Homo sapiens: one gene and its partners. The protein of the gene in region 1 interacts with the protein of each later gene in a pairwise test. Each region holds a gene or a part of one and is shown in the gene's direction. Other genes may lie near its edges. The genes, in order: MTUS2, TTLL10, LMO3, CRY2, TTC23, TCEA2 and SYT6.

Region 1 (4,246 bases):
GGGAGGCTTATAATATCTACCACACACATGTTTGAAACGAGTTGTTGAAAAGAGTCAAGGAGTTTCCCCTTTTCTCTGAAATGATTTCTACTTCCTATGTGAATTTGGATGCCTTTAGATCTTATCATCTTGACCCTTCCCACCAACGGGTATACCTTGTCTATCAATTACCCATCCATCAGTCATCTATCTACCATCCACCCACCCATCCACAGAGACTCTCTTTTTGACCAAACTTTAGTCAGGCTCCCCTGAGCCCTCTTCTCAACTGGGCCTCAACCTTGGCCCGTAAGAACTGCAGCTTTCAACACAAACAATTTTGTCTGTGCTCCCACCCTCCAACGGATTTGAAAACACTGTAGCATGGTGTATTAGCCTGTTCTCACCTTGCTGATAAAGACATACCCAAGACTGGGTAATATATAAAGGAAAGAGGTTTAATTGACTCATATAGTTCAGCATGGCTGGGGAGGCCTCAGGAAACATAGAATCACGGTGGAAGGGGAAGCAAACACGTCCTTCTTCACATGGCAGCAGGAGAGAAAAATGAGCAAAAGGGGGAAAAACACCGTATAAAACCAGCAGATTTCATGAGAACTTACTGTCGCGAGAACAACATGAGGGTAGTTCCCCCATGATTAAATTACCTCCCACCTAGTCCCTCTCATGACACATGGGGATTATGGGAATTATAATTCATGATGACATTTGGGTGGGGACACAGCCAAACCATATAACATGGCATCTAGCAGCCTAAGGCCATGTGTCTGGGATCACCCAGCCTCACTTGCATTCCTACCTAGAAAAGCTCAAGGCTGCCCCAAAGAATTTATCTTTTGTTCTAGCCCACACAAATGATAATAGGCCCCTGACTTTCATTTTGTTAGATCGTTTATTAAAAACTTACAATTGTAATTCTTTCTCTGTGCCTTTGAGATATATGTGTATCTCCTACCACCTGGAGTGTCTTCCTCAGTGTCTGTGAGCCATTCCTTTGAAGTGTAATCATCAGGGAGGATAGGGCTCTGTCCTCTAGTCTCTGTAGATGGGTAGGAGCCTAACTTTGACAAGTGCCATTTAGCAGTCACAGATGGCCTAGTCTCATTGGCAAGCCCCCTTGCCTGATTGCTGTAATGTTCTGTGTCCTTGACCCTGCTTGAGCCCCCACACATTCTCATTTCTCCTCCCTACTTCCTTATTCTCCCTTTAAAACACCCAGTCACCTCTACCTGAATTGGAGTTGAGCTCAGTTCTATACTGAAGTCTCTTTCTCTCACTGCAGTTGTACTGGGTAAAATCTGTCTTTACTGCCTTTAACCAGTGTCTAGCTTTTTTTTTTTTTTTTAAACACCATCCAACAAAAAAGTTTGAGTGTCTCCATAGGCCAGGCACTTTTACATATTAGGTATAGAGCAGCAAATAAAACAGACAAAAACTGCATCCTTGAGGAACTTACAGTGTAATGGAATGAATCAGATGAGGTTAAGTACTTAATATATCAGGTATGGATACTGCTATGGAGAAAATAAATCAGAGATGGGGGAGCAGGAGTGGGTTATGGGGAATTGCTATTTCAAGTAGTGTGGTCAGGGAATGCCTCACTGAAAGGAGATGTTGAGCAGAGCCCTAAAGGAGATGGAAGAGTGAGCCACCTGACCAGAGTGCAGCTGGCATTTGTGGGGAGCACAGGGAGGCAGCTGCAGGCCGCAGTGGGGGAATCTCATGCTCATGGCCAGCTTTTCCTCATGACAGCAGCCCCATCCCCCACTCCAGCCACCTGAGGCTGCCCACGAACACTGGTGTTGTTCTTGGGGCCTTAGTGGTATGGTGGCTTGGAACTGAGGACCTCTCAGGGCATCGGAATCCAGCCTAGACCATACCTGAATAGGAGTAAGGAATGAGAGTGTATGTTTTCAATGATGGCTCCCACTGGTTTGTCATAGGAAAGAGGCTGGGGGCAAGCTCACTCCAGCCTGGATTCCCTGCAGTCACCCTGGGAACAAATGGAACTATGATGTATAAAAGATGTGGACAGTGGAAACCACACGGCTCTTTCTCGAGGAATGTCTTAATATCAGGAACCTAGAACAACTTTCTGATTTGAACTGAGCCTAGAGAGAATCCCCAGCTTAAAGGGAACTGGGGTTGGTTAGGGTTTGAGGAGGGGAAATTACTCAGTCATTGACCGAGGCTCCTGCATGCCCAGATGGCTGCTCAACATCTGCTAACCAGAACAACACACACACACACACCCCTGGCAACAGGCTGTCATGAATTTCTCCATGGAGAAGGTGAAGAAACCATTGGGGAGCAGCAGCCAGGGCCTGTCTGCTGGTTTTTAGTTACAGCCTTTCTATACTCATGGGGACAGGGGTATGGAACCAGGATGGGATAGCTGTTTCATTTTTTAAGCTGTTAGCTTGTAACCATTTTAAACTCTCAACAACCAAAACACAAATCTCTCATATAGAGGTTCCTTGGATTGTTTGCTGGTGGGTAGGGAGCATCACAGCAGCTTGAGTGAGCATATGCAGCTGGCATTGGGGAGGTGGCATTTATAGGAGTCTGGTGTTCCTGACTCTTCTCTGTGCCTGTCATGACTTCATGTGGTCTCTTACTTTGCAAGCTTCTCTCACGTGCCCTATTGTATTTGGAAAATGGGGAACTTAAGGTCATTCCTGGGTATTTGATACTCCTCTTTAGCTTTTGTAAGTGGGCCTTCTTCTAATTGGTTGTATATATTCTATATGTTGGTTGTATTACATATAACCAATAATTGATATATAGAAAGCTATTCTAAAATGTAATGTAACCAAGCACTTTTCAAGCTCTTATTAATTATAACCTTGTTTTGTGGTTATTTTCCTTGGATTTTCCAGATAGATGGTCATATCATCTGCTAAATAAGTAAATAAATCAATAAATTTAAAATACATGGTTAGATGAATGAATAGATAAAAAATGATTACTTTGGTCTCTTTATTTCTATTTTTTATTATCAGACTAGATAGAAGACGAGACTGTTTATCTGTTGAGAGATTTTAAAAACAAGATTATTGTATTTCAGCCAAATGTACTTCCCTTGTCCCAGAGAGGATAGGCTATATGATCTCTGAGGTCCTCTCCTTATTAGTCTTTTTACTCTGTTTACTGTAGACCCATTGTACCAGTATGTTCAGTTCCCATAGAAAAACAAAAGAGTGTTTACACACAGTCATTATAGATAAGCCAGCAGTGTGTGTGATTAGGGCCAAACCAGTATTGATGATGGCCTGATACTGACTTTAGAAAGTTTGACTCACCTTGCAGAAATGAAAAGCCAACATAATGCATTAGCGTCTATGAAGACTGTAATAAGGCAAATACATTTGTCCAGAAACAGGCTGATATTGATACACTGATTTTAAGTGCTTTTCCCCAAAAGTACAATAGAGAAAGCCAGGAATATATAGCCTTGGATTACAATAAATGATAATAAAACAGCAGAAGCAAATAACACTTAATAGGGAAGTTTATTTTCCACACTTCATCAGATTGCTACTGCAGAGTACTAGTCTAAAAATTTAATATGAACACTAGCTCTGTAAATACGGGAGAAGTAATCTCAAATCATCCTGAATTAATTATCTTTGTGCTAAGCTGTTTGACATTACTCATTGAAAATAGCTTCTCAAGACAGGCAGTATTTTTCTACACACAAATAATTGTGTTCTCAGGTTGGAAATGTTGCCACATATTAAGCCAAACACATTTTTTTGCTTCTAATTCTTATATTACTATCAGTTTATTTCAGGGAAAGTTAATTTGAGAATTGAAATCATGTAGCAGAATAATTTTGGTTGAAATTGATGTTTCTAAGCCTGATGCATTTTCCATTAGTGTTACATGGTATCATTGGAAGTTTGTACAGTGAACATGCCAAACATTAGGTTTAGTTTTCTGAAGACTCTAGCAAGTATTCTTTTTTTTTAAATCCACATTGTATTAGTTTAACTGGCAGGTAGTAATTAGTTTTATATTGAGTGAGCTAATTTGCCACTACTAGCAGATTTTGAAGTTATTTTAATATAAATACATTGTCCTCTACCCCCAAACTTTATACTGAAATTTTTCTGCTAAATTTTAGGATTATAATTTTGATAATGGCCCAGGATATTGGAATAAAATATAAATGTGAGTTAGCATTAATATCTCAGTTTAGAGAATAACAATAAAAGCAGGAATGTGACCTGCAGCCACATTTCTT
Region 2 (4,246 bases), on another chromosome or scaffold:
AACTCTCTTTTTCTAATTTCTTAAGGTCAAAAGTTAGGTTATGATTTCAGTTTTTTCTTCTTGCTTAAGGTAGGTGCTTAGTGCTATACATTTTCCTCTGACCACCACTTTTGCTGCATCCATAAGATTTTGCGTGTTGTCTTCATTTTCATTTGTCTCAAAGTATTTTTATTTTTATTTTTTATTTTATTTGAGATGGAGTTTCGCTCTTGTCACCTAGGCTGGAGTGTAATGGCGCAATCTCAGCTCACTGCAGCCTCTGCCTCCCGGGTTCAAGCGATTCTCCTGCCTCAGCCTCCCGAGTAGCTGGGATTACAGGCACCTGCCACCACGCCTGGCTAATTTTGTTTGTATTATTAGTAGAGATGGGGGTTTCACCATGTTGGCCAGGCTGGTCTTGAACTCCTGACCTCAGGTGATCCGCCTGCCAAAGTGCTGGGATTATAGGCGTGAGCCATGATGCTCAGCTGCAAAGTATTTTAAATTTCCTTTGTAAGCTTTTCTTTGACCCATTGGTTGCTTAAGGGCCTGTTATTTAATTTCCACATATTTGTGATTTTTCCAATTTTCCTTCTGTTATTGACTTCTAATTTCATTCCATTGTGTCAGAGAACATACTTTATAATTTCAACCCTTTAAAAATTATTGAAAAATTATTGGAGCTGGTGTGTTGGCACATACCTGTAATTCCAGCTACTCAGGAGGCTGAGATGGAAACATTGCTTAAGCCCAGGAGTTTGAGTCCAGCCTGGGCAACACAGCAAAACCCCATCTTTAAAAAAACAACAAACTTACTATTCATTAAGTGGATCATTAAAAAACAAAAACAAAAAACACTTGAAACTTGTTTATGTCCCAGCATATGGTCTATCCTGGAGAATATCCATGTGCACTGGAGAAGGAGGTGTATCCTGTTTTTGGGTGTAGTGTTCTGTAGATGTCTGTGCCGAGACCAGCTCGGTCGGGGAGACCCTAACCCGGCGGCGCTAGAGGAATTAAAGACACACACAGAGAAATACAGAGGTGTGAAGTGGGAAATCAGGGGCCTCACAACCTTCAGAGCTGACAGCCCTGAACAGAGATTTACCCACATATTTAGTAACAGCAAACCAGTCATAGCATTGTTTCTATAGATATTCAGTTAACTAAAAGTATCCCTTACGGGAAACGAAGGGATGGGCCAAATTAAAGGAATAGGTTGGGCTAGTTAACTGCATCAGGAACACGCCCTTAAGACACAGATCGCTCCTGCTATTGTTTGTGGCTTAAGAACGCCTTTCAGCGGTTTTCCGCCCTGGGCGGGCCAGGTGTTCCTTGCCCTCATTCCCGTCAACCCACAACCTCCCAGCGTGGGCGTTAGGGCCATTGTGAACATGTCACAGTGCTGCAGAGATTTGTTTATGGCCAGTCTTGGGGCCAGTTTATGGCCAGATTTTGGGGGGGGGCCTGCTCCCAACATGTCTGTTAGGTCTGTTTGGTTTATAATGTTGTTCGAGTCTTCTATTTACTCGTTAATCTTCTGTCTCTGTATTGAAAGCGGGATATTCAGTTGTCTACTTCTCCCTTCAGATCTGTCAGTTTTTTGTATATTTCGAGGCTCTGTTGTTGGGTGTGTGTATGTTTATGATTATTAGATCTTCTTGGTTTATCGTTATAAAAATTTTCCTTTAATCTGCAGTAATAATTTTTGTGTAAAGTCTATTTTCTGTGATATGAGTGTAGACACTCCAGTTGGTATAAGTGTAGACACTCCAGTTGATATGAATGTAGACACTCCAGTTGGTATGAGTGTAGACACTCCAGTTGGTATGAGTGTAGACACTCCAGTTCGTATCAGTGTAGACACTCCAGTTGATATCAGTGTAGACACTCCAGTTGGTATGAGTGTAGACACTCCAGTTGGTATGAGTGTAGACAATCCAGTTGATATCAGTGTAGACACTCCAATTGATATCAGTGTAGACACTCCAGTTGGTATGAGTGTAGACACTCCAGTTGGTATGAGTGTAGACACTCCAGTTCGTATCAGTGTAAACACTCCAGTTGGTATGAGTGTAGACACTCCAGTTGATATCAGTGTAGACACTCCAGTTGGTATGAGTGTAGACACTCCAGTTGTTCATATCAGTGTAGACACTCCAGTTGGTATGAGTGTAGACACTCCAGTTGGTATGAGTGTAGACACTCCAGTTGGTATGAGTGTAGACACTCCAGTTCTACTTTGGTTACCGTGTGTGGTACATCTTTTTCCATCCCTTTACTTTCCACCTATTTTTGTCTCTGAAACTAAAGTATCTTTTGTAGATGGTATATCATGTTTTTTTAAGAAACTCCGTCAATGTCTATTAATTGGAAAGTTTAATTCACTTACATTTAATATAATTACTGATAAAGGGCCGGGCACGGTGGCTCACGCCTGTAATGCCAGCCCTTTGGGAGGCCAAGGCAGGTGGATCACAAGGTCAGGGATTGAGACCATCCTGGCTAACACGGTGAAACCCCGTCTCTACTAAAAATACAAAACATTAGCCAGGCGTGGTGGTGAGCAACTGTAGTCCCAGCTGCTCGGGAGGCTGAGGCAGGAGAATGGCGTGAACCCAGGAGGCGGAGCTTGCAGTGAGCCAAGATTGCGCCATTGCACTCCAGCCTGGGTGACAGAGCGAGACTCCGTCTCAAAAAATAATAATAATAATAATTACTGATAAGGTAGGATTTACATATGCTATTTTGTTATTTGTTTTCTATGTCTGTCTTTTTTTGTTCCTCAGTTTCTCCATTACTGCCTCCTATTGTTTTAGAGAGATATTTTCTAGTGTAGCTTTTTTTTTTTGAAACGGAGTTTCGCTCTTGTTGCCCAGGCTGGAGTGCAGTGGCGTGATCTCGGCTCACTGCAGCCCCCGCCTCCCGGATTCAAGCGATTCTCCTGCCTCAGCCTCCCTAGTAGCTGGGATTACAGGCGCATGCCACCACACCCGGCTAATTTTTTGTATTTTTAGTAGAGACGGGGTTTCACTATGTTGGCCAGGCTGATCTCAAACTGCTGACCTCAGGTGATCTACCCGCCTCAGCTTCCCAGGGTGCTGGGATTACAGGCGTGAGCCACCACGCCTGGCTTAGTGTAGCATTTTAATTACCTTGTCATTTATTTTACTATATGTTTTTGAGTTATTTTAGTGGTTGTCCTGAGGATTACCATTAATATTGTATCTTAATTTACTACAATTAGGGTGAGTGTGGTGGCTTATGCCTGTAATCCCAGTGCTTTGGGAGGCTGAGGCAAGAAGATCATATGAGGCCAGGCATTTGAAAGCAGCCTGGGCAACATAGTGAGACCCCATCTCTAAAAAACAAAATTAGCTCAGCATGGGAGTGTGCACCTGTAGTCCTCCTAGCTATTTAGGGGGCTGAGATGGGAGGATCACTTGAGCCCAGGAGGTCAAGGCTGCAGTGAGCCACAATCAAACCACATTACCCCAGCCTAGGTGACAGAACAAGACCCTGTTTCTAAAATAAAAAATGTTTTAAAATAAACAATTCAGTTTTTTATTAATACCAAGTTAATTTCAAAAGCATACAAAAACACACTGCTCCTAAAAGTATACAAAAACACTCCTCCTACACAGCCCCACCCCTCTCATGCTGTTGTCACAAATTACAGCTCAGTATATTTGTGTCCATCAACATGGATTCATAATTATTGTTGTATACAGTTGTCTTTTAGGACAAAACAATCACATACAAAAAAATACATGTATGCTGTCTCTTATATTTAATTACACAATGACCTTTTCTGGGGCTCTTTATTTCCTCCTGTGAGTTCCAGTTACTGTCTAGTGTCTTTTCATTTCAGCCTGAAGGACGGTAGGGCGGGTCTACCTTTGTTTATCTGGGAATGTCTTAATCTCCCCTTCATTTTTGAAGCAGCTTTTGCTAGATGTAGAATTTTTGGTCAACAGTATTTTTACTTTTGGGAATTTGTGCCATCCCACTGCCTGCCCACCTCACGACCTCTAATGAGAAACTGGCTGTTCATCTTTCTGTGGATGCCTCATACATAACGAGCGGCTTCTCTCCTGCTGATTTCGACGTTCTCTGTCTTTTGGAAGTTTGCTGATGAGGTGGTGGATCTCTGAGTTTATCCTACTTTGAGTTCATTGAGCTTCTTGAATGTGTAGGTTGTTTTTCATTAAACTGGGAAGTTTTCTGCCATTATTTTTTCAAATATTGTTTCTGCTCCTTTCTCTTC
Region 3 (4,246 bases), on another chromosome or scaffold:
AAAAGTGCATTAACTACTATGCATGGAATATTATTTGTAATAATTCTTCCCCTCCATTATCAACTTTAAAGAAACTTGGTTTAAATATTGCCAGTGCAAATGGATAAAATATTTCCTCACGTTATGAAATGAGAGACATTTTATTTTGTACTTCTTTTAGGTCATTACAATAACGATTCTCAGGAATCTGCAGCAAATAGGAATTTTTTTTAAATCCTAGACAATTCCAGTGGTTCTGACAGTATATTATCCTTCAATTTCTGGTCTAGCTATATATAGTTTACAGCCTCATTTACTTTAATGTGCTACTTGAATAACATAATCATAGCTATAACTATGGTATAGAGCCATAAGGTGCATGCATGCGCCTCTATGTTTTTTGACTATTTAAATGGCTTCTTCATAAATGTATTTTTAATAATAATGGCAAACCTTTTAGTAACTAAATGTCAAAAAGTAGTGAATCATTCATTAGTTGGTTCCTTTCCCAACTAAAATGTTTAATATATAACATTAAGAGCAAAGTTATATTGCTTTTATATTTTCTATATACTCTAACCCAGAGATTTTTGCTATGAATTCACCCCCATTGACTTCTGTTTATGTGCAGTTACGTAAGCTTCCTAATGTATTTGTCTTTTCCTTTTCTTCTCAAACAAGATGTGATTTTCATCAAGGAAGGTCAACGGAGAATATATTGCAGAAGAATATTTATGCATACACCTAGGATAAAATCCACTTGTGTACATCATAAAGCATTGTGTATTGTAGCTTTACAGAGTATATTAACATCATCTCTCTTCACGATCTCAGATTTCTCTGTAAGAGTTTGTAAAAAAAAAAAAATGTTTCTTATTCTAGGCTCTTTGGTGTAACGGGAAACTGCGCTGCCTGTAGTAAGCTCATCCCTGCCTTTGAGATGGTGATGCGTGCCAAGGACAATGTTTACCACCTGGACTGCTTTGCATGTCAGCTTTGTAATCAGAGGTAAGCAGGTCTCTTTTTGGTCTCTAAGAAATGGTTAACCTCTCTGTGCTGGCTATTTATTTAATAGGTGGAAATTATATTCATACATTTAAAGCAATCAATCTCAGCGTTTTTCTGTTCTGTAAACTTTAATCCCATGCCAGAGACAAGCTACTAAGGAGAAGAAAGGTCTTAAGACTTACTTCTACCTGAAAGAAAAGCATCATATAAGAGCAAGTAACAGAAAATGGAAACACTACCGTAAACTCTGACTTCTTTTACTCATTCCTTCTTTTATTATTTTCCTGTCTTTTTAAAAGTAGTTTTAAATATCTACTTTTTTATACTACTTATGTGAGTAAATAAATTGGCAATGAAGCAAATATACAGGAATTTGTTGCAGGTATTTTATATTCTTATTATTTTTTATATTTTAAATTCCTTATCCCTCATGTTTTTGTTTTTGCTTTTTTAAATACAAGGTCTGGTTCTGTCACCCAGCCTAGAGCGCAGTGGCACTAACATGGCTCATGCAGCCTCAACTTCTGTGCTCAAGCAATCCTCCTGCCTCAGCCTCCCGAGTAGCTGGGAGTACAGGTGTGCACTCCCATGCCTGGCTAATTTTTTTTTTTTTTCATTTTTTATAGAGATGATGGAGTTTCACTATGTTACCCAGGCTGGTCTCAAACTCCTGGCCTCAAGCAATCCTCCCACCTCCACCTCCCAAAGTGCAGGGATTATAGGCATGAGCCACCACCCCCACCCAATCTAGCTGTTTACCTTAAATTTTAACCCTGTCCTATATGTACTTTTGCAGTTACTTCAAATATCTTTGAGAATCAGTCCAGATATAGCTAATAATTAAACAATTATTATCATTGGAGAGGAGCATTTGAAAAAGTGTTGAACAGGGAACCTGGAAACCTAAATTCTAATATGGGCTCTGCCACTAATAAGCTGTGCGATCTTAAACCAAACAAACACCTTCCCTCTCTGGACCTCAGGTTTTTCATTTGTAACATATGAAGCTGGATTAGTTCATCTCAGAGAATTCTTTCAGCTGAAAAGTATTATCACTTAATTCCATTTTTTCTTATTGAAAGTTATATTTTTTATTTCTGTGAAAACTATATACTACTGGCACCTGTTTTATATGATAAATGGAGAGGATTTTAGAACATTAAAATGTACGTATTAAAAATACAACATTTCAAAAATTAGAACACTTGATAGATTTTAATGAAAATGAATTCACTGACTTTCTGTGAGAACACCTGGCAGAGTATATAATCAATAAATATTAGTTGCATCAAGTTCTCAGTTATTGTAATTTACTCTGAAAGGTACTATTTGATGCAGAATCTTCTTATGAGACCCTGTAGAATAGTAGAAAGAATGTGACATTTCTAGTGAGAACGGGATTCAAATTTCAGCACCACCATATATTAGCTGATATATTAGCTGTGTGATCTTGAGTATGTTACTTAATCTCTCTGAATTTGATTCCCACACCCATAAAATAGAAACACTAACACCTCTCTTGCAGAGTTTGAAACTTAAATGAAATAATTAATTTATATTAAATGTCAGGAACACAACAGGTTCTCAAAAGTTAGTTATCTTTATAATTTACCAAATAATATTCCATTAACTTGACTTTCCCACAAGGCATGTATCACAATAGTGTTTCTTGCTAAATGTAGATATTCAGATTGTTGCCTAATGTACCTTATAATGTAATAGTTACCCAGACAGTCATGTAAGATGTTATCTTACAATGTCTTGACTCTTCCCAGCAAGTACTGAGAATCAAAGTAAGTTCATTCAGTCTAGGGTAACATTTAGACGAAAATAAATTGGCAAATGCACATGTTTTTGGTAGGGATAAGGATATACAAACACAAACATTCCCACATCCATACAGACACCTTTATGTGCATGTATATATGTATTTTATACATTTTAAAGGTGTCTTAGTAGTAAATTTAGAATACTTTTGTTGACTTGTCATGTTGATCAACTAATAGCAGCCAGTAACCATGCAGTTCCCATTATGGAATCATAAAGTCATTGCTTTTCTACTTATAAAAGATTACATATTCATAGTAGGAAATTTAGAAAATAGAAAATGATAAAAACAAGACATTGTCCCATGTCTCATTCTTCTAAAAGAAAACATTTTAATATTTTGATATATAGCCAGCCATACATGTTCCTATGTCTATAGGACAAATGACATTGTATAAATATTACACTCACATTTAAGCAAATTAAAGTTACAAGGGAGAATCCTAATGTTTGATATTTGGACTTTTTCACTCAATTTATATTTTGTGCCTTTTTTACCTGCCATTAAAAATTCTTTTAAGATATTTTAAGCTTTTCTGAGTTCAGCTTTATGGACAGAGCTTCACATATGTCTTCTATCATCAGATATATAAGTTGTATCTTCAAAAGTTTTTGTGCTGTAAATATTATCAGTATTATCAATATAAAAATGGACCTTATGAGACCCTGTAGAATAGTAGAAAGAATGTGACATTTATAGTGAGAAGAGATTCAGATTTCAGCACCACCATATAGTAGCTGATATATTAACTGTGTGATCTTGAGTATGTTACTTAATCTCTCTGAATTTGATTCCCACACCTACAAAATAGAAACACTAATACCTCTCTTGCAGAGTCTGAAACTTCAATAAAATAATTTATGTTAAATGTCAGGAACACAACTGGTTCTCAAAAGTTAGTTATTTTTATAATTTACCAAATAATAGTCCACTAACTTGACTTTCCCACAAGACATATATCACAATAGAGTTTCTTGCTAAATGTAGATATTCAGATTGTATAAAAACAAATGCTCATATCTCTATCTGGTTAAATTCACAGAGCATGATTACTTAAACAAGGTATATAACAGTTTGAAGGCATATGCTGTACATTGCTTAATGATCTCCAGGAAAGTTATACCAATTATTCTCCTAGCAGAAATCTACAAAACTACGCATTCCCTCACATTCATTCTAAAACACTAGGAATTACGTTTAAAAAAAAAAAAAAAAAATCCTTGCCACCTTAAGGGATGAAAGATAGTATTTCATTATAATTTCTAACTGGCATTTATTTGATCCCTGGTGGTCCTTTGGTATTCCTTCTTTTAGAGAAGTAGGCAGTTTATGTCCTTTGTCCATTTTCTTCTATTAAGTAGGGTTACCTATTTTATCCATGTTCTACATAGAAAATAAAAACATTCAAGTGCTAAACCCAGCCTAAATTCT
Region 4 (4,246 bases), on another chromosome or scaffold:
GGACAGATAGGCCAAGTGCCAAGCAGGCTAGTAGGGATTTTTCTGTGATTAGAGATTTTGTCAGTCTCTGTCTTTAGGCGGCTCTGCGTCAACACCAGGGAGCCCGGAATTGAGTCCCAGCTCTGGCCCTGCCTTGCTCCATTACTGAGGCACCTGCTTCAGCTCTCTGGGCTTTATTTTCCCTCTCGGTAAAATGGAGATGCGGCCTCCCTTGCCCCCTCCTTTCCACTCAGGCATGGGACCTGTGAGTGGATGAGGAAAGCCACCCTCAAAGCCTTCAGAGTCTGGGTTCTTTTTTGGGTGGGCAGGGACCCACATCACAGGGCCATGTGGGTAACACTAGCTATGCTTTGGGCTCCCCAGGATCATTGAGCTGAATGGGCAGAAGCCACCCCTTACATACAAGCGCTTTCAGGCCATCATCAGCCGCATGGAGCTGCCCAAGAAGCCAGTGGGCTTGGTGACCAGCCAGCAGATGGAGAGCTGCAGGGCCGAGATCCAGGAGAACCACGACGAGACCTACGGCGTGCCCTCCCTGGAGGAGCTGGGTGCGTACTTCCTGCCCAGAGCCACTTGTGCTGGTGCCTGCTTTTGTGTAAAGAAATTCTTTGTGAAAGTAATGCATGTCATTATAGAAAGGTTAGAAAGCACAGGAAAACAAAAATGGAAATGGCAGTCACTATTACTCCACCACCCAGAGGTAACCACAATTAATTTTAAACTGTGTCCTTCTAGTATTTGTTCTGTTCATACTCATACATGTAATCTTCTGTTTCTGGTTCTAGATCATGCCTCTATTTTTGTACTAACCTCTCGCAGACAATACAGGCACTGCCTGGTGCTGGTGTCCATGGGCTTCTCAGTAACAAGATAGCTAGTATTGCTTCTGTTGAAAGCAGGGAATCTGTCAGCCTCTCAGATTACTAACTACACTCTTTCACCCCTCCCTCTTTCTTACCTTTTTTTTTTCTTTTTTAGACGGAGTCTGGCTCTGTTGCCCAGTCTGGAGTGCAGTGGCACAGTCTTGGCTCACTGCAACCTCCACCTCCCGGGTTCAAGCAATTCTGCTGCCCCAGCCTCCTGAGTAGCTGGGACTACAGGCGCCTGCCATCACGCCCAGCTAATATTTGTATTTTTAGTAGAGACGGGGTTTCACCATGTTGGCCAGGCTGGTCTTGAACTGGTGACCTCGAGTGATCCACCCACATCGGCCTCCCAAAGTGCTGGGATTACAGACGTGAGCCACACCTCCAGTCTTTTGATCTGAACAAAGCTATTAGCCTTTTTCACCTGAAAACCACAGTTGTTGCCAGCTAATCTGAAAAGGCAGGAGGTCCGGGATTGTTGTCATCTACCTGGAGCGATGAGGGTGCAGGGGAAAGCAGAGAAAATAGTGACTGTGGGAAGAGAACCAAGTTGACCTAGAAAACGCTAAAACTTTAAGGATTATCTAACCCCCAGTAGCACCGAGACACTGTGGTTCAATTCTCATAAAGTTCAAATAACAGAACAGCCGTGCCGGGCTATCACTGAAATGGTCAAACCTCCTGTCTTGTGACCTTTCCTTCTCTTCAGGGTTCCCCACTGAAGGACTTGGTCCAGCTGTCTGGCAGGGAGGAGAGACAGAAGCTCTGGCCCGCCTGGATAAGCACTTGGAACGGAAGGTATGGGCCGTTTCTGAGACACAGAGCTGCAGATACTGATATCCACACAGCAGGAGATACAGGTCATGTCCATGTCCTTTAGTCCCTCTTAGCTCACATTGTTTGGAAAATGAAAAATCCTCCTATCCTCCTGATGGCCATAACAACAGCAACACTAACAGCAACTACCATTTAGAGAGTACTTACCATGTGCTGGTCACTAGGCTCAGCATTTCTGGGTTAAGCACCTGCTGGCATTTCTTTTAATCTTTCCAATAGCCTGCAAGGTAGGTACTAAGCTGTTCATTCTACAGATTACAAAATTGAGGCTTAGAGAGGTTAAGTAACTTGCCTGAGGTCACAAAGTTAGTAATTACAGGTTGAGTATCCCTTATCCAAAGTGCTTGGGACCAAAAGTGTTTCAGATTTTAGATTCTTGAATTAGGAATGCTCACCTTATAACACAGTAAGACCTTGTTCTATGTTATTCTAAAGCTATGTCGGATTGCTTTTCTTTCATCTGTGGGCAGGTTCCCCCTACTAAGAGGATATCTGGTTAGTAAAATCTATAAGATTATTTTGTGTTGATGTGTCTCCGCACCTTTTTGCTGGAACTCTTTCAGCGTGTTGATTTCCATATGCTTGGACACAGAGCAAATGGCCCACCTCCCAGTGCAGTGAGAACTGGGGAGGAAAGAAGCCCAGGCCTCAGAGGCACAGTGTCACAAAGTCCTCACTCCCCTGCAGCTAGAGGAGCAGAGAAAGTTCTCATGTCCGAGAACAGTCAGCTCCTAGTTTCCTGCCCCCTGCAGCTGGTTTATAAAATGTCAGCTTTTTCTATGCCTGCTAAGATGGCTAGGTATTTTGCCTAGCAGCCAGATGATGACGATAATAGAACAAGGAGGCCAAGGCAAATCTACTTGGGAAGAATGTTCTCCAGCCCTGGAGGTGTCCAGTCAACAGTGAAGGCCCACAGCCTCGATGTTTCTACCTGGTTGTTTCCTTCAGCCTGGGACGAAAGCAAGCCCCACAGACTTAAAGGATGAGACTAGCTATCTCTGTCCACATCAAAAGGTTCACCTAGAGATTCTTGGGCCCAGTTTGAAGACAAAGGTTGGGCCAAGGGGCAGAAGGGTGGAGATGACAAATGGGATTGCAGGAGTAGAGTAAGGCTTAAACCTGTAAAGAGCTATCATCTATGGTTAGTTTTTATCAGCTGGAGAACATTTTGTAGAAGGATGTCCCTTAGGTCACCGACAGGAGCTCCTTTTCCACATACCCCCAGAGAGCGGGCCCCTTCTCTCAAGGGCCCTTACGCCATGGACATATTCAGACTCAGTGGTGCCCAGAGGAAATACTGTGTCCTGCACATCTGGGAGAACAAATGGTGCTAGAGATACAGGAGTTGAACCTGATTTCAGGATGTTTATTTTAGCTTCCTTCAGTTCTCCAAATCTGAAGGGAGCACCTACTCATGCCAGTTTAGCAATACTAGATAGAAGAAGGTATGTGCCTCTTTTCCGAAAGCACCAGGAAAAGTCCCAAGGCATGTTTTCATTGTCCTGGTTTGGGTCATGTGACTGTCCCTGACTCAATGACTGTGGCCAGGTATAGGAGGTGGTGCTTTCCCTGGCCAGACTTGCATCATGAGTCCGCTCCCAGAACTGGAAGGTAGGTTTAGCTCTGCTTTATCCACTCGGACTAGGATCAGGGAAGGCTGATTCTCCACAGGAATATGAGATGCTGTTACTGAAAAGCAGAGGAAGCTACATGATCTTTACCACTGGGTTACTCAATAGTAGATGAGGGCAAGCATCTCTCTATAAAAGTATTCTGATTATTAAATTAAAAAGGAATGGTGGAATTTGAATACCACCATTTTGTAACCCTCAATAATGATGCATTATGTATTGGTGACTGCTGACACCATAGAAGGAGGCAAGCATTATGTGCCCCCTGTAGTCTTGTCAAAGGGATCAAACCTGAGTCCAGTCCAGTTTCTGGTACTAGCCACCAATGTGCAGGTGATACACAGGACACAGCACTTGTTGAACTGCACCATGAGTATACAGTCAGCAAAATCCAGACTGTGGGAATCTTGGCAAGTCAGATGGCCTGGATTCTTTCCCAGAACAATGGAAAGGAAAAGAAAAAAATGGCATAAAATGTGCAGATTAAAAGAAAATTAAATAACATATTAAAGTTTTTTTTAAGGCCAGGCACAGTGACTCACACCTGTAATCTTAGCACTTTGGGAGGCCAAGGCAGGAGGATCTCTTGAACCTAGGAGTTCAAAACCAGCCTGGGCAACATGACAAGCCCTCATCTCTAAATAAAAACAAATTAGCCGGGTGTGGCAGCATGTGCCTGTAGTGCCAACTACTTGGGAGGCTGAGGTGGGAGAATCACTTAAGCCCAGGAAGTCATGCCACTGCACTCCTGCCTGGGTGACAGAGAGTGGGGTCTCAGAAATAAAAGAAAAAGAATCCCAGCACTTTGGGAGGCCGAGGCAGGTGGAGCACTTGAAGTCAGGAGTTCGAGACCAGCCTGGCCAACATAGTGAAACCTCATCTCTACTAAAAATACAAAAACTAGTTAGGCAT
Region 5 (4,246 bases), on another chromosome or scaffold:
TTATTCCCTAAGAATAAAGCTATTCCCTTACATGGCCACAGTACAGTGATCGTAATTAGGAAATTAATGTCAGTATAATACTATTATCTAATCTGTAAACCTTGTTTATATTTCTTCTTAATAATGTCCTTTACAGAAAACAATCAGACCCATGGTTCAGTCTGTGAATTCATGTTAAATAGAGTTGTCATGTCTCTTTAGTCTCCTTTAATCTGAAACAATTGCTTAACCTACTTTGTTTTTCATGATCTTGATATCTTGGAAATATATACTCTAATTGTTTTGTAGAATATCTCTCTGTTTGAGTTCGTCTTATGCTTCCTCATGATTCTATTCAGATTGTACATTTGGAGCAGGACTACCACAGGTGTGACATGGGGCGCTCCTTAGTGCGTCCTGTCAGGAGGTGCAGAATGTCTGTTTGTCTTCGTACAGTGATGCCAACCTTGAACACTTGGTTAAGGTGCTGTCTGGCAGGTTTCTTTACTGCAGAATTGCCATTTTTCCCTTTGTAATTAATAAGTATTTTGTGGGTAGATTCACTGAGACTATGTATATATTTAAAACTTCACTCTGCCACCTGAATCAGTTATTACTATGATGTTTGTCACATAGCCAGTCTCTGACTTCCACATTATTTCAACATTTGTTTGTTGGCATTCTATTATAAGGAAGAGCTTTTCTTTCTTCACAGCTTATTTATCATTCATTTATTCCTATCAGTATGGGTTCAGGAAATTGTATTTTTCAAATACACTACAACCTGTTATTTTCATGGAAGCTCGGATTGTTCCGTATCTGCCAGTGAGAGACCCTTCCAGCTGGCTCCTGAGTCCTCAATGCATCCCCTTACGGTTTAACCACTTCCTGGCGCTACCACTTGCTGGTAAATCATCTCGACTTTCCAGCCTTAGACTCCTTCATCTTTAAACTGAGGGGACCAGGTGAGATGATTTCCAAGGTTCCTCCCAGTTTTGAAATTGCCTTCCTACTTCGTGCTTGTCTTCTGTCTGCCCCTTACTGATGCCTATTGCTAAAGTCACTGGAACTGGTAGAATAAAGGTTGGAAAACCAATAGGGATATTTGGACCATGCCTTGTAACAAATAAGGACGTGAAGGAAGGACAAGCTGTTTCTTGTATACCTCTATCCCTACTCAGGTCCTGAGAACCAAGGCTATTATCAGGGAAGCCCAACTCAGCCTGCACCGTCCTCTTCGCTGGAAATCTGTAGTTGGGACAGATTCACTATCAAAACAGATCTACCTCTCTTTTTGTCTGTCTGGATTCCATGATGTTGTCATCATTTCCGTGTCTTTCATACACTGTAGTTGTTGTTCTCTTTCTCTCTCTCCAAAGTAGTCATTCCCTAAACTTCCTGTGTCTAGAGGCAATAAAAAGGTGATTCCCAAAAGAAGTACAAACAGCCAGTTAACACATGAAGATGCTCAGCCTCATCAATTTGGGAGAAAAATGTGGACTAAATCAAGGAGAAATGGGCTAACTGACAAACTGACAAACTAAAAACCAAACAAAAACTCCACAATTTGTACTCAGTTCAACGTAAGGGGCATTTCTGCTCACATGTGCTGCGCTGAAAGTATGAACTGGTACAACCTCTGGGAGAGGCACTTCAATAGCTACTCACAGCCTCAGAATTTTGCATATCCTTTATACAGCAATCCCATTTGTGGGAATTTGTTTTGTGGAAATGTTTATGGGTATGTGCAAAGCTATCCATACAGGATATTCAGTGAGTAAGAAATTTACAAACAGCTAAATGCCCAATAAAGAGTGGATTGAGTAATGCAGTTATGATATAGTCATATAATAAAATACTGTGCAGCCATTCAAACTTATATCATAGAAGATGACATGAGAAGTTATTCGTAAATTGTTAAAACAGCAGCTGTAAACCTGCATGTAGTTTATGAACCTATTTTTGAAAAAGAAAAAATATATAAAGATAGATTCACAAAAATAAAGAATAAAGGGATATTTATCTACCTAGATATCTCTAGGCGGTAAACTTACAGGTGATTTTTAGTTTTTATCTTTTTGCTTATCTGTATTTTGACAATGAGCATACATTATTTTTGTAGTAAGAAACGTTACTGTAGAAAAGAATATGACAGTCCACCTTCTTTCAGCACTTTATGGTGAGCATGTATTCCTTAGCTTCCTCCTGCTAGGTCACAAAAGTGACTCTCCTTTGGCCAACTGTCTGGCTGTGTATTTTTGTCAAGAAAAATGTTGTTTTAGGGTGAAGGTATTTCCAATGCATGTAGGAATTGTGTGGAAATGCAAGCCCTTTGAGCTTTGACATTGATGGGCGTGCATCCTAGGTGTATCCTGGATCTTCTTCACAACTCTGTCCTTGTTCTTACCTTTCTTCCTCTGCTTTGACCCCTTCAGCTTTCTTTCTTCAGCCATCTCTCTTGCTGTTCTGACTATCTGTTGCTGCATGACACCCCAATAACTTAGTGGCTTAAAACCAAAACAGCCATTCATTTTTCTCATGAGCCTGCGGTTTTTGCAGAGCTCAGTGGGGTTTGCTCAGCTTTGCTCCGCACAGCATCAGCTGGTCTTGAAGGGTCTGGAGAATCTGCTGCCAAAATGGTTCACTCAAACTATCAGGCCTTTCTATGTGGGTCTTCTCTCCATGGGGCCATGTTGGCTTCCTCACAGCACTGTGGTTGGATTCTGTATTAGTCTGTGGTGCTGTCCTAACAAAATTCCACAGATGCTGTGGCTTAAAGAACAGAGTTTATTTCCTCACAGTTCTGGAGGCTGGAAGTCCAAGACCAAGGTGTGAGCAGGGCTTGATTTCATTCTAAAGCCCTCTCTCCTTAGTTTGTAGATGACTGCCCTCTTGCTGTGTTCTCACATGGTCATTTCTCCATATGCATGCCCATCCCTGGTGTCTTTTCCTCTTCATATATAAGGATACCAGCTGTATTGGACTAGGGTCCACCCTAACACCTCCTTCGAACTTAAATCACCTCTTTAAAGACCTCATCTTCAAAAACAGTTACATTATAAGGTGCTGGGGATTGGGACTTAAATATATGAATTCAGGGAGGTTGGGGAGGAGACACAGTTCAGCCCATAACAGGTTTCAAGAGTGAGTACCCAAGAAGAGACAGAAAGCAAAGCCACCAGTTCCTTTAGACTGTGGCCTGAAAACTGGCACTGTATCATTTCCTCCACGTTCTATTGGCCAAACAGTCATAAAGCCCAGATTCAAAGGGAATGGGACATAGACCCCCATCTCTGAATGGAAGGAGTATCAAATAATTTTGGAGCTGAGGTTTTGTTTGTTTGTTTGTTTTGAGACGGAGTCTCGCTGTGTCGCCCAGGCTGGAATGCAGTGGCACGATATCGGCTCACTGCAAGCTCCGCCTCCCGGGTTCACACCATTCTCCTGCCCCAGCCTCCCGAGTAGCTGGGACTACGGGCGGCCGCCACCATGCCTGGCTAATTTTTTGTATTTTTAGTAGAGATGGGGTTTCACCATGTTAGCCAGGATGGTCTCGATCTCTTGACCTTGTGATTCACCCATCTCCGCCTCCCAAAGTGCTGGGATTACAGGTTTGAGCCACCACGCCCAGCCTGGAACCGTGTTTTAAAACTGCCAGCTCTGCTTTGAGGATATGGCTGCTCTGAGATCACCTGGAGCTGGGAATCCAGTTTTCTGTTCTTTTTGTCCTATCCCTGAATGAAACTGTGCTTCTTGCTGCTTTAATCAAGTCTGTAAGTCCTGCTGATCTCATTTGCTATGCTAGTGCAGATGGCTAAGGAAAGTTTTGAATTGAGAGCTAAACTATAGTATTTGACAGCCTGGGCAACATGGCAAAATCCCATCTCTACCAAAAATACAAAAAACTAGCCAGGTGTGGTGGTGCACACCTGTGGTCCCAGCTGCTCAGGAGGCTGAGGTGGGAGGATTGCTCGAGCCCCCTGGAGGTCGAGGCTACAGTGAGCTGATATCGTGCCATTGTACTCCAGCCTGGGTGACTCCAGGTGAGTGAGACCCTGTCTCATACACACACACACATACACACACACACAAAGTGTACTATTTGAAAACACTACCATTTGCCCCTGTTGTGCCTGCATATGTAGTAGCTGTTCATTGGTGGGCAGCTGGGAAACCTAGAGAATGACTAGATGTCTGCTCTACTTTTTCTATTTTTTAAATTCTATTTCTTTTTTTCACCCTTAAATGTACTATAAATTGTACTTCT
Region 6 (4,739 bases), on another chromosome or scaffold:
CTATCTTGGCTCACTGCAACCTCCGCCTTCCGGGTTCCAGCAATTCTCCTGCCTTAGCCTCCCAAGTAGCTGAGATTACAGGTGCCCGGCACCACACCTGGCTAGTTTTTGTATTCTTTGTAGAGACGGGGTTTCACCATATTGGCCAGGCTGGTCTCGAACTCCTGACCTCAGGTGATCCACCCGCCTGGGCCTCCCAAAGCGCTGGGATTACAGGCATGAGCCACTATTGCCCGGCTAAGATGAGTCTCTTAACTGACCATATTTTCCTTTTCATTTTGGCTGCGGGGAAGCTCAGTTATATGTGATTAGTGCCACAGACAGCCCAAGAAATGCTCAGCCCATTCCACCTGCCACCTGGCCTCATAGTTCGTTGGCCTGAACTTGAATGACTACAGGCTCCTTGATCCACACCCTCCCCCAGGATTGTGCCCTCTCCAGGAAACCACCCAGCATCTGCATTACTGGGGAGCTGCCAGGCAGTGGTGGGGATGCTGGCCCTGCACCTGTCCCCGTCCTCAACCCTCCCTAGGCCTGGGCCATCTCTCTGGCTGCCTGCAGTCTGGCCCTACCTAGGGACCTCCAACAACAATGTCAATGAACACTAATTGTCATGCTCCATCCCCTCTCTGTTCTCAGGCATGTGATGTGAATCAGCTGACATCATCTTGACGGGAGCCCTGTGAGGCGGACACTTAACTCCAGTTTCACAGGTGGGGAGACTGAGACACAGTGGTCAACGTGCAGAGCCCAGAATCTGCTCCCTGGTAGCTGACTTTGCAGGCAGGGGCCTTGCCCACGCAGCCTCGGCAGAGGCCCCCGCACTTCGCGAACCCCAGCAATGGCCCCTTCCAGACGCCACGTCCAGCTACCGCGCGCTCACACCTGCAGGGCCCCACAAGAGGCCTCCCAGTGTGCGCGGGCCTCTTGAAGAAGTAACTCTACTCAGAAGCCCGAATGACCCAAACTGGGCTCTGGGAGGCTGGGGACGGCCTTCTAGGCCAAGTGGGGCGCGCGCAGGGCTCAGCGGGGCCCAAGAGAAGGGCTGAGGGCACTGGGTCCTGAGCCACCCACCGAAGGACGCCGCGGGACAGCAAGGCCCGAAGCAGGAGGAGAGAAGGGAGCAGATTCCTGGGCCTCCTGGGGCCCGGTCGCTCCGGGATGTCTGAGCTCTGGGAGGGGCGTGCCCGGGGCGCCTCCCTCGCGGGGTATTGTGGGATCACGAGTCACTGGCGACGGTGGGTCAGGACTACACTTCCCAGGAGGCTGTGCGCGCCGCGTGGCGCCTGGGAGTTGTGGTCCAGAGCGCGGGCGCGGCGGGCGCGGCAGGCGGGCGCGTGGACTACGCATCCTAGGATGCCGCGCGCGGCCGCGGGGCCGAGGGTTTGAACCGGGGGTCTGTCGTCCGCGGCGGGGCTGCGTCGGCTGCGGCGGGTGTGGGAGGTGGCGACGGCCGGGGCCGGGGTCCTGCCCGGCTGCGGAGGCGGGCGCGACGGGCGCGGGGGTCGCTGCTCCTGAGGCGATGATGGGCAAGGAAGAGGAGATTGCGCGGATCGCCCGGAGGCTGGACAAGATGGTGACCAAGAAGAGCGCGGTGAGGGGCGCGGGCCGCCAGGACCCCGGGAACCCCGCCCCGCCGAGACCCCGTCGAGCCCGCCGACCCCCGTTAGGGCCGGAAGACGACCTGAGGGGCAGGACGAGACCCCTCCCCGGCAGAGACTAACCGGGACGCAGGGGAGACCCCCACCCGTGGCCGAGACCCCTGCCCCGGGCCAGCCCTGCCGTTCACTCCCGCAACCCCGGCAGAGGCCGCGATCAGGCCTGGACCTTGTCCCGGGAGAGCCACCCGCTCTGGACTCAGACCCCTCCCTCGCCCGCAGTCACAGGCTCCGCACCCTTCCCTGTCCCTTAACTCCAGACCCCCAGCCTGGCCCGTCGACTCCTTCCTTGGCCCTGTCCCGCCTCTCGGAGCCCCCGGGGTGTTCGGGCCTCCTCTGCGGGCCGCGCCAGCCCCTTGCCTTCCTCCATCCCGGCCTGGGCATCCTCACAGGCCGAGCCCCGCCCCCCAACTCAGCCCTCTCCCACGCTCCGTCTCTTACAGCGTTTGTCACCCTCCGTCTCCCATAGCATTTGTCGCCGGCAACAGTTTGGAGTCTGAGGTTGGATCCCCTTTTCTTCTGGAGCTTCCGTGCCTCCCCTGCCTCTTCCCAGCCCTTGTCATCCTCCTTCACAGGCCAGCCAGATACCTGTCTTGCCTGTGGGCCCATTTTCTTCCCTGTCTGTCCCCACCCCACAAGAACCAGGTTTCTCTAATAAATTCTCTCCCTTCTTTAGCCAGGACTTAGCCCGCAGCAACTTGGGTTGTGGGTAGTTATGTGGACACCCTCCGAAAAGAGCCGGTGTGCTTATATAAGAGCCAGGAGGTCGGGCAAGCCTCCTCTGGGAGTGTCTGGGCGCTGGAGCCTCTGGCCGGCTCTGTTCACTGCGGCCTGGGCCTCTGTTGTCTTGCGGCCACAGCGAGACTTTGGAGGAGGCTGTGTGTGAGGACTTTGAAGGGGCCAGGTCAGTGGGGGTCCAGTTCCAGCGTCATGACCTTGGCAACCTCTGCACCCTCCCACAGAAGCATCTTTAGAGGATGCTGCCTGCCTCCTGGGGGGTGGGGAGGGGTCTGGCCGCAGGTCATTTGGAGCTCCTGGCTGGCTCAATAAACGTGACCTGTGCTTTCCCACCCAGACTGTGAACTCCTGGGGCAGGGCCAGCTGTGTGTCTGCCAGGCCAGCCCAGGGCGGTGAAGGTGGCTGAGTCATGGGCTTTGGGTGATTTGTGCAGCCACCCCAGGGCTGTGTGACTGCAGTGGGGGTTTGGGGGAAGCTTTTTGGGCTGAGCAGGGTTGAGTCTGGGTTCCTGTGACCAGCGTTCTGGACTGGGGTCTGCCCTGGGAAGGGGTGGGCTCCCACTCATTCCTGCTGGGTGCAGCACCCCCATCATTGCGTTCACACACACCCCGGAAAACTGGTCAGCACAAAGTAGGGGTCTGCGAACCATTCATAGCTGTTTCCAGAGATGACCCGAGAATGGAGTTGTTCCCCTTCTTAAAGGAGACAAAACACAAACGATAAAAGCTGTAGGTGGGAGAAGCAAAGATGGGTCATGGAGCCAGGGGAGGGCTGGGTGGGGCTGGGCAGAACTGATGGGGGGTTTCTGGTGGAAGAACAGCTTGAGTAGAAGCCCCAGGGGAGAATGAGGAGGGGAGGCGGGCGCTGTGCAGTGGGGAGTGGGAGCCAGCAGAGCCTCCTGGGGGTCCCAGTGCCTGAGGTCCCCTCGGGGACCTGGGGGCCAGGTGTGGGGGTTTTTTTGCCTCTGGACCTGAGCCCACTGAGAGCCACGTAAGCAGGTGCAGGGCTTTCAGGGGACAGTGGCCTTGGCTCTGGCTATCACCTCAAGGCTGGACTCTGTACAGCCCAAGAGGCAGGGCCTGCCTGGGAGGGCTCAGGAGGGGCTGCAGCGTGAGCAGACTATGCCACCCGGATTGCTGGGGTTGTGCGGGCGGTAGGTGGGACAAGCCCCTCCCATGGCCTGTGGGTCGTGGGACTCTGATCAGGTCACCTTAGGGCAGAGGGAATGATACACACGTGGAAACACATGCACGTGTTACAGAGGAGATGGGGTGTTGCAGGGCACAGTTGCAGTTTTAAACAGGAGAGGCCTTGCTGAGAAGGTGTTGTTGAAATAAAGCCCGGGAGGGAGGGAGGGAGGGAGGGAGACGTTGTGGGAGGCCGCCCCAGGCGGTGGAGCTGCAGGTGCAGAGGGCCTCGGTGGCGGCTCAGCGCCCTTGGGGAGCACTGAGTTGCCGGGCCTGGTGTGGAAATGTGACCGGTTTGTGCCTGGCCTCGTCAGTGTTGAGGACCTGGAGGAAACGCAGATCTTGGGTGGGGAGACAAGGCGGAGAGAACGAGGTGCATTGGAACAGTCCAGGCGAGGGGTGCTGGCCTGCTTGGGGGCAACTCAGAGGCCTGGAGGATAGATGAGGAGGGGGGCTGTGGGCCTTGTAGGTGTTGGCTGTGGCCGTGCCTGGAGTGGAGGGACCCTTGAAAGTTTGGCCTCAGCTCGGGACACTGATGTTCCCGGGTTGGCCCTTCATGAGAGTTTGGCCTCAGCTCGGGACACTGATGTTCCTGGGTTGGCCCTTCACAGCTGGTGGGCGGGGGGTGCTTTGGGGAGAGGCTGCCCTGCGCATCAGGGCATCAAGACACAGGGGAGTGAATGAACCTGGGGCTGCAGTTTCACCTGGGTGTGGCCCTGGCTGCTGGGGAGGGGCCGTGGCTCTGAAGCCTCATGATTGGCCAGGGGAGCTGGCATTTCTGTTCTGGTTTGGGTCAGTGACCTGAGGTGGTTACAACGAAGTCAGTGAGGTCATTGCCACGGATGTGGGTTACAACTTGGAATGCTTGAGGCTGCAGAACCCCTCCCCTTCTTGACTGAGCAGTAAGGGTTCCCTGCTGTGGTGCAGGAACATGTGGGCAGAGCCCTGGGTGTCTCCAGGTAGAGGAATTTTGGTTTCTTTTTGACCCCAGGTTGAATCTCCAAATTGTCACTGCCTTGTGTTCTCCTCCAGTAGGCAGAAGGAGGTGATATTGTCTGTTGAGATCTAAAGTCCTTTATGAAGGTCCTCCTTCTCCTTCCAGGAGGGAGCCATGGATTTGCTGCGGGAGCTGAAGGCCATGCCTATCACGCTGCAC
Region 7 (4,246 bases), on another chromosome or scaffold:
TGGTGCAACTGGAAGAAGAGGAGGTATCAGGCCTTGAAAACTGAAGTTTCAGGACAAGGTGCTCAGGAAACCCTAGAGTAACATGTGTTTGTTGCAGCTCTGAGTCCCTCAGAGCTACCCACACACATCAGGATGTGGGGAAGAGATTAACGGACCTCTTCTGGCCTGGGAAAAGCTTAGGCAGCAGCAAGTCAGCTTCCCCTAAAATACAGCCAATGTAGATTTCATTTTAATACCAAAATAAGTGCATAACAGGGAAGAAAATTCACTGAAGACTCTCAAGGCTGCTGAGGGAAATAGGATTTTGCTGCCTAAGTCCCCACACTATCTTCTCTGGTGTAATTAAATTGATGTGCTGGAGAGAAAGCCTATGGTGAAGCTGCTGAGGTCATCACAAAAGCTGCTCTGAATCAGAGGGTTTGGGGTGTGAGATTTTGTTCTTGCTAAGTTCTAACCTCCCTTTCACAATTGCCCCTCTTTTTGACCTGGGTTTGGAACCTGTTATTAAACCTTGGCTTGATTCCGAAGATCCAGGGGTCTTCTTTTCATTACAAGTTTCTGTCTATTTTGTTCATTGATGTAAGCAAGTATCTGGAACAGTGGATAAAACACAGTAAGCATTCAATAAATAGATACCGAATGAATGGATGGTTGAATTTACAGCATGAGGAACCTGGCCCAAGGGTGAAGCAGTGGGGGTGTACTTGCTAGGAGCCTCTCGAACTAGATCTCCTGTTCTTGAGGATGAGTTTGAGGTTTCCCTCAGCCCAGACTTATTCGATGTTGGACTAAGCTAGGTATTGAATGGAGCTTATTAATTGCCTATTCTTGAATTGTGTGGCATTGATGTCTAAAACCCAGGATCTTCCTATTCTCAATGATCTAAACTAGCCCTGAATCAATTCTCTAAGCCTATCTGCTAGAACCATGACACTAAAAATAGCACAAAATAATAATAAGGACCAGTATGCTACAAAGGGGTGGTGAGCACATTCTAAATGCTGGATTTTGATTGCTCCCATGACAATGAGGCTGAAATACACTGCTGGTCTTTGTGTCCCCTCCCTCAGCTGCGTAGAGCATCATAGGCTGTTAGAGAGGAAAGGACCTCCAAGATCATCTGGGGCCAGCATTCCACTAGAAACCGCAGACTTTTGCCCCAGAAAAGCCTAGGGAACGGTCATCTGTCTGCTTGGCTTCATGGATGCTGGTGAAAGTGTTGGTTCCTGCAAGGGAAATATGTGCACTGAATTTTATAAATTTCATATCAGCCAGGCACAGTAGCTCATGCCTGTAATCCCAGCTACTCGGGAGGGTGAGGTGGAAGAATCACTTGAGCCCAGAAGTTCAAGACCAGACTGGGCAAAACAGCAAGACCTTGTCTCTTAAAAAAAAATGGATATGCCTTGTAAGGATGAACAGAGTTGGGGAAGGTTGCTAAGACATTTGCTCAGTGGCCCATGGGACAAGTGGCTCTGCCTCTATTTTTCCAAGCCTCATGATATGGAAATCTGCCCTGATGTGGGAGTGTATGGAAATAGGTAGAGCAGGGGAATGAGGCGGCACCTGAGCAACCTCAAGTCTGGAGCCACTTTGCAAGAAAAGGTACATCCTTATGGATTTTGCAAGCTGCTGTGTTAAAGACAGGTATTGGGGCTAGCTCTGCCCATCTGTCTACCTGAACCTGAATAATGTCCTGGGGCATATCCATAGAGAATGGAATCTGTGGAAACCAGAGCCTCATGCCGGTTCTCAAAACTCTTACTTCCATTTTACTGAAAATCCCTAAGAGAGGGTCCTTTCAAATGTGTAGTTTGAGACAGCAGGTTGATTAAACACCTCATGGTCTCTCCATAAACCCAACCTCATCTCCCCATGGTTAAGGCATAGCTACTGCTGCCACATGGATTAGTCGGCAGCTCATTTAGGTGTCTACAAAAATGCCTTTCAGGCTTGGAGTTTCTGATCAGGTGTCACAGTTCTCCCTAATTTCCACCAGGGATGTGTGCCTCATCTGCCATCTGAATGATGCCAGGGAGTACAGGGCCCTAGTGGGTGCTCGATGTCCAGGAGATAGAACCATATGCCTATGAATCACAGAGCTGGGGAGCAGCTGCTTGGCTGGCACCTCCTGACAGATTCACAGGAGCCCTGGCTTCTGGGCAACAAGGTGTCTCAGCACATCAGCGTCTCGAAAGCTATTATTACCTGTGAGCCGCCCTCCCATTTCTTGAGCTGTGCAGCATAAATAACAATTATGATGGTGACCGAGACACCTGTGCTATGAGATACACTAGGTTTCACTTCACTTGGGTGAGTAGAAAATTTCAGGGTAGAAAGATGACCATGAAATACCCATTCAGAAAACTAAAGAAAACAAAAGGATGGGAGGCACATGGAAGTTCAATAAAAGCATCTCTTTGCAGGATGGAGAGAATCCAAGATCCCACTGAGAAAGGAAATGTCAACCAGCTGCCCTGAGTCTCCCCGGGCCACAGCTCCCTCATTCTCCACTGTCCAGAAGTGGGCAGGAAATGGCTTCCAGGGAAGCAGAGAGCAGGGCCACTTCACGCCTTCTAGATGCCAAATGGAAATGGGATTATTGAGACAATGGGACCCAAAATTATGTTGTCAGGTGGGGAGGACATGAACAGCATTGTGATTGTTGCTGTTCATTTCACTCTGACACATTGTGTCTCCCTGGCCATTGTTGAGTCCTATTTTTACCCCGCCCCAAAACCTTTATCCTTTGGTTTGTAATTCTGGTAAAACAAAAAAGCCACTCAAAGAATAGTACTCCACATAGGTAAAAGAAATAGTGTCATTGTTCAGCCTCATCACCTTTTTGAGTCAGCCAGGGATTGACGAGCTGAGATTTAGGGCTGTGAACTGCATACCTATCGGCAGGTGTCATGTCTGATATGGGGCCAGCTTCCCCATTAGTAAAAGTCCATTAGGCGCTCTCCCAAGAATACTGAGGTAGCTAAAGACTCTGCATTTATTAAGCACAGAGTGTCCTCAGAGACAGGTGTGCTACATAAATACAAGGTGGTTTAATTATTTTAACAACCCACTGATACCATCTGATGAGCAGCAGTAGGTCTAGGGCTTCGGTCCCTTTGCTGCAAATGATGTTTGCAGACATCTGTTTAACATACTCCATTCCCTTTTCTCTGTCCCCATTGGCACAGATCCCTATGTGAAAGTGTCCTTGCTCTGTGATGGGCGGAGGCTGAAGAAGAAGAAAACAACCATAAAGAAAAACACTCTCAATCCTGTCTACAATGAGGCCATCATCTTTGACATTCCCCCGGAAAACATGGATCAAGTCAGCCTGCTCATCTCAGTCATGGACTATGATCGGTAGGTAGGCGTCCTAGAGGGACGTAATTCTACCCCTCACTCCCACTCCAGCACCAGCACAGGGCTCCTTGACCTTAGACCTTGTGATTCAGGGCTCAGCTTTAGGGTTCAGGCCTCAAATCTATCTGTACCCAAGAAGGGTGCAGGAGTTTGAGGAAGAGCATAGATTCTCCCTTAGCAAAGGTTCAAAGTTCTTTTCCCAACTGGCCTATCTCCGTCAGGGGCAGCTCTGTCCATCAGTTTCCCTGAATTCACCCCTTGCTATTCCCATTCTTCCATCTGGCACCAAGTCCTATTATCTGGCCTTTGAAATGCCCCTCTATCCTCTCTATTTCTGCTGTTGCTACTACTGTCACCCTGGGATGGCTGTGCAGCCTCCTAGCTGACCCCTGCCTCCATCAATTCCTGCCACAATTCGGTCAACATACTAAGGACACATCTTCCTAAATGACAGCTTTCTTCCTGGACCTGCCCTTCTCAAGAACCATCAATGGCTCCTGTGATCCAGGCTTTTCCCTTGGACTCTGATGGCCTTCCCTAATCTGGACCCAGCATATCCATCCAATCGGATCTCCCCTTCCTCAGATATTTTTCGTCTCTTCCACTCATCCTGCTCTTCCATCTAGGCTGGCTCAAAAACATTTTTCAACTACTCTGGTCCCCATAACTTCTTCTCTCCACTTGTCACTTTAGCTAAAGGAGAAAGAAACCATGCAATAAAGCCTCAATACAGGACTTTCAGCCCAAGTTCTCAGGCATAGTATTGACGAACATACTTAAGAGATAATTGATGTTCTTACCGAGTGAATAAATCACATTCCAGCCACTGGGGTTTTGGAGAAATGGTGCTCAGAGACTGTCGATTTATTTGCAAATACTGATG

What was found.
Region 2: the proteins of MTUS2 (region 1) and TTLL10 interact in binary tests that used the Homo sapiens proteins (3 or more experiments, as listed by UniProt).
Region 3: the proteins of MTUS2 (region 1) and LMO3 interact in binary tests that used the Homo sapiens proteins (3 or more experiments, as listed by UniProt).
Region 4: the proteins of MTUS2 (region 1) and CRY2 interact in binary tests that used the Homo sapiens proteins (3 or more experiments, as listed by UniProt).
Region 5: the proteins of MTUS2 (region 1) and TTC23 interact in binary tests that used the Homo sapiens proteins (3 or more experiments, as listed by UniProt).
Region 6: the proteins of MTUS2 (region 1) and TCEA2 interact in binary tests that used the Homo sapiens proteins (3 or more experiments, as listed by UniProt).
Region 7: the proteins of MTUS2 (region 1) and SYT6 interact in binary tests that used the Homo sapiens proteins (3 or more experiments, as listed by UniProt).

What each region holds. Positions count from the first base shown.
Region 1 is NC_000013.11:28,823,339-28,827,584, forward strand, and holds part of MTUS2 (microtubule-associated tumor suppressor candidate 2), read left to right. Parts: intron 1-4,246. UniProt on the Homo sapiens protein: Binds microtubules. Together with MAPRE1 may target the microtubule depolymerase KIF2C to the plus-end of microtubules. May regulate the dynamics of microtubules at their growing distal tip.
Region 2 is NC_000001.11:1,190,651-1,194,896, forward strand, and holds part of TTLL10 (inactive polyglycylase TTLL10), read left to right. Parts: intron 1-3,956; coding exon of another isoform or gene 3,957-4,058; exon of another isoform or gene 4,059-4,246. UniProt on the Homo sapiens protein: Inactive polyglycylase.
Region 3 is NC_000012.12:16,557,154-16,561,399, reverse strand, and holds part of LMO3 (LIM domain only protein 3), read left to right. Parts: intron 1-861; coding exon 862-987; intron 988-4,246.
Region 4 is NC_000011.10:45,860,485-45,864,730, forward strand, and holds part of CRY2 (cryptochrome-2), read left to right. Parts: intron 1-363; coding exon 364-548; intron 549-1,575; coding exon 1,576-1,664; intron 1,665-4,246. UniProt on the Homo sapiens protein: Transcriptional repressor which forms a core component of the circadian clock.
Region 5 is NC_000015.10:99,222,082-99,226,327, reverse strand, and holds part of TTC23 (tetratricopeptide repeat protein 23), read left to right. Parts: intron 1-781; exon of another isoform or gene 782-944; intron 945-4,246. UniProt on the Homo sapiens protein: Participates positively in the ciliary Hedgehog (Hh) signaling.
Region 6 is NC_000020.11:64,061,791-64,066,529, forward strand, and holds the start of TCEA2 (transcription elongation factor A protein 2), read left to right. Parts: upstream 1-1,407; 5' UTR 1,408-1,522; coding exon 1,523-1,594; exon of another isoform or gene 1,595-2,562; intron 2,563-4,456; exon of another isoform or gene 4,457-4,542; intron 4,543-4,615; exon of another isoform or gene 4,616-4,685; coding exon 4,686-4,739. UniProt on the Homo sapiens protein: Necessary for efficient RNA polymerase II transcription elongation past template-encoded arresting sites.
Region 7 is NC_000001.11:114,098,211-114,102,456, reverse strand, and holds part of SYT6 (synaptotagmin-6), read left to right. Parts: intron 1-3,191; coding exon 3,192-3,363; intron 3,364-4,246.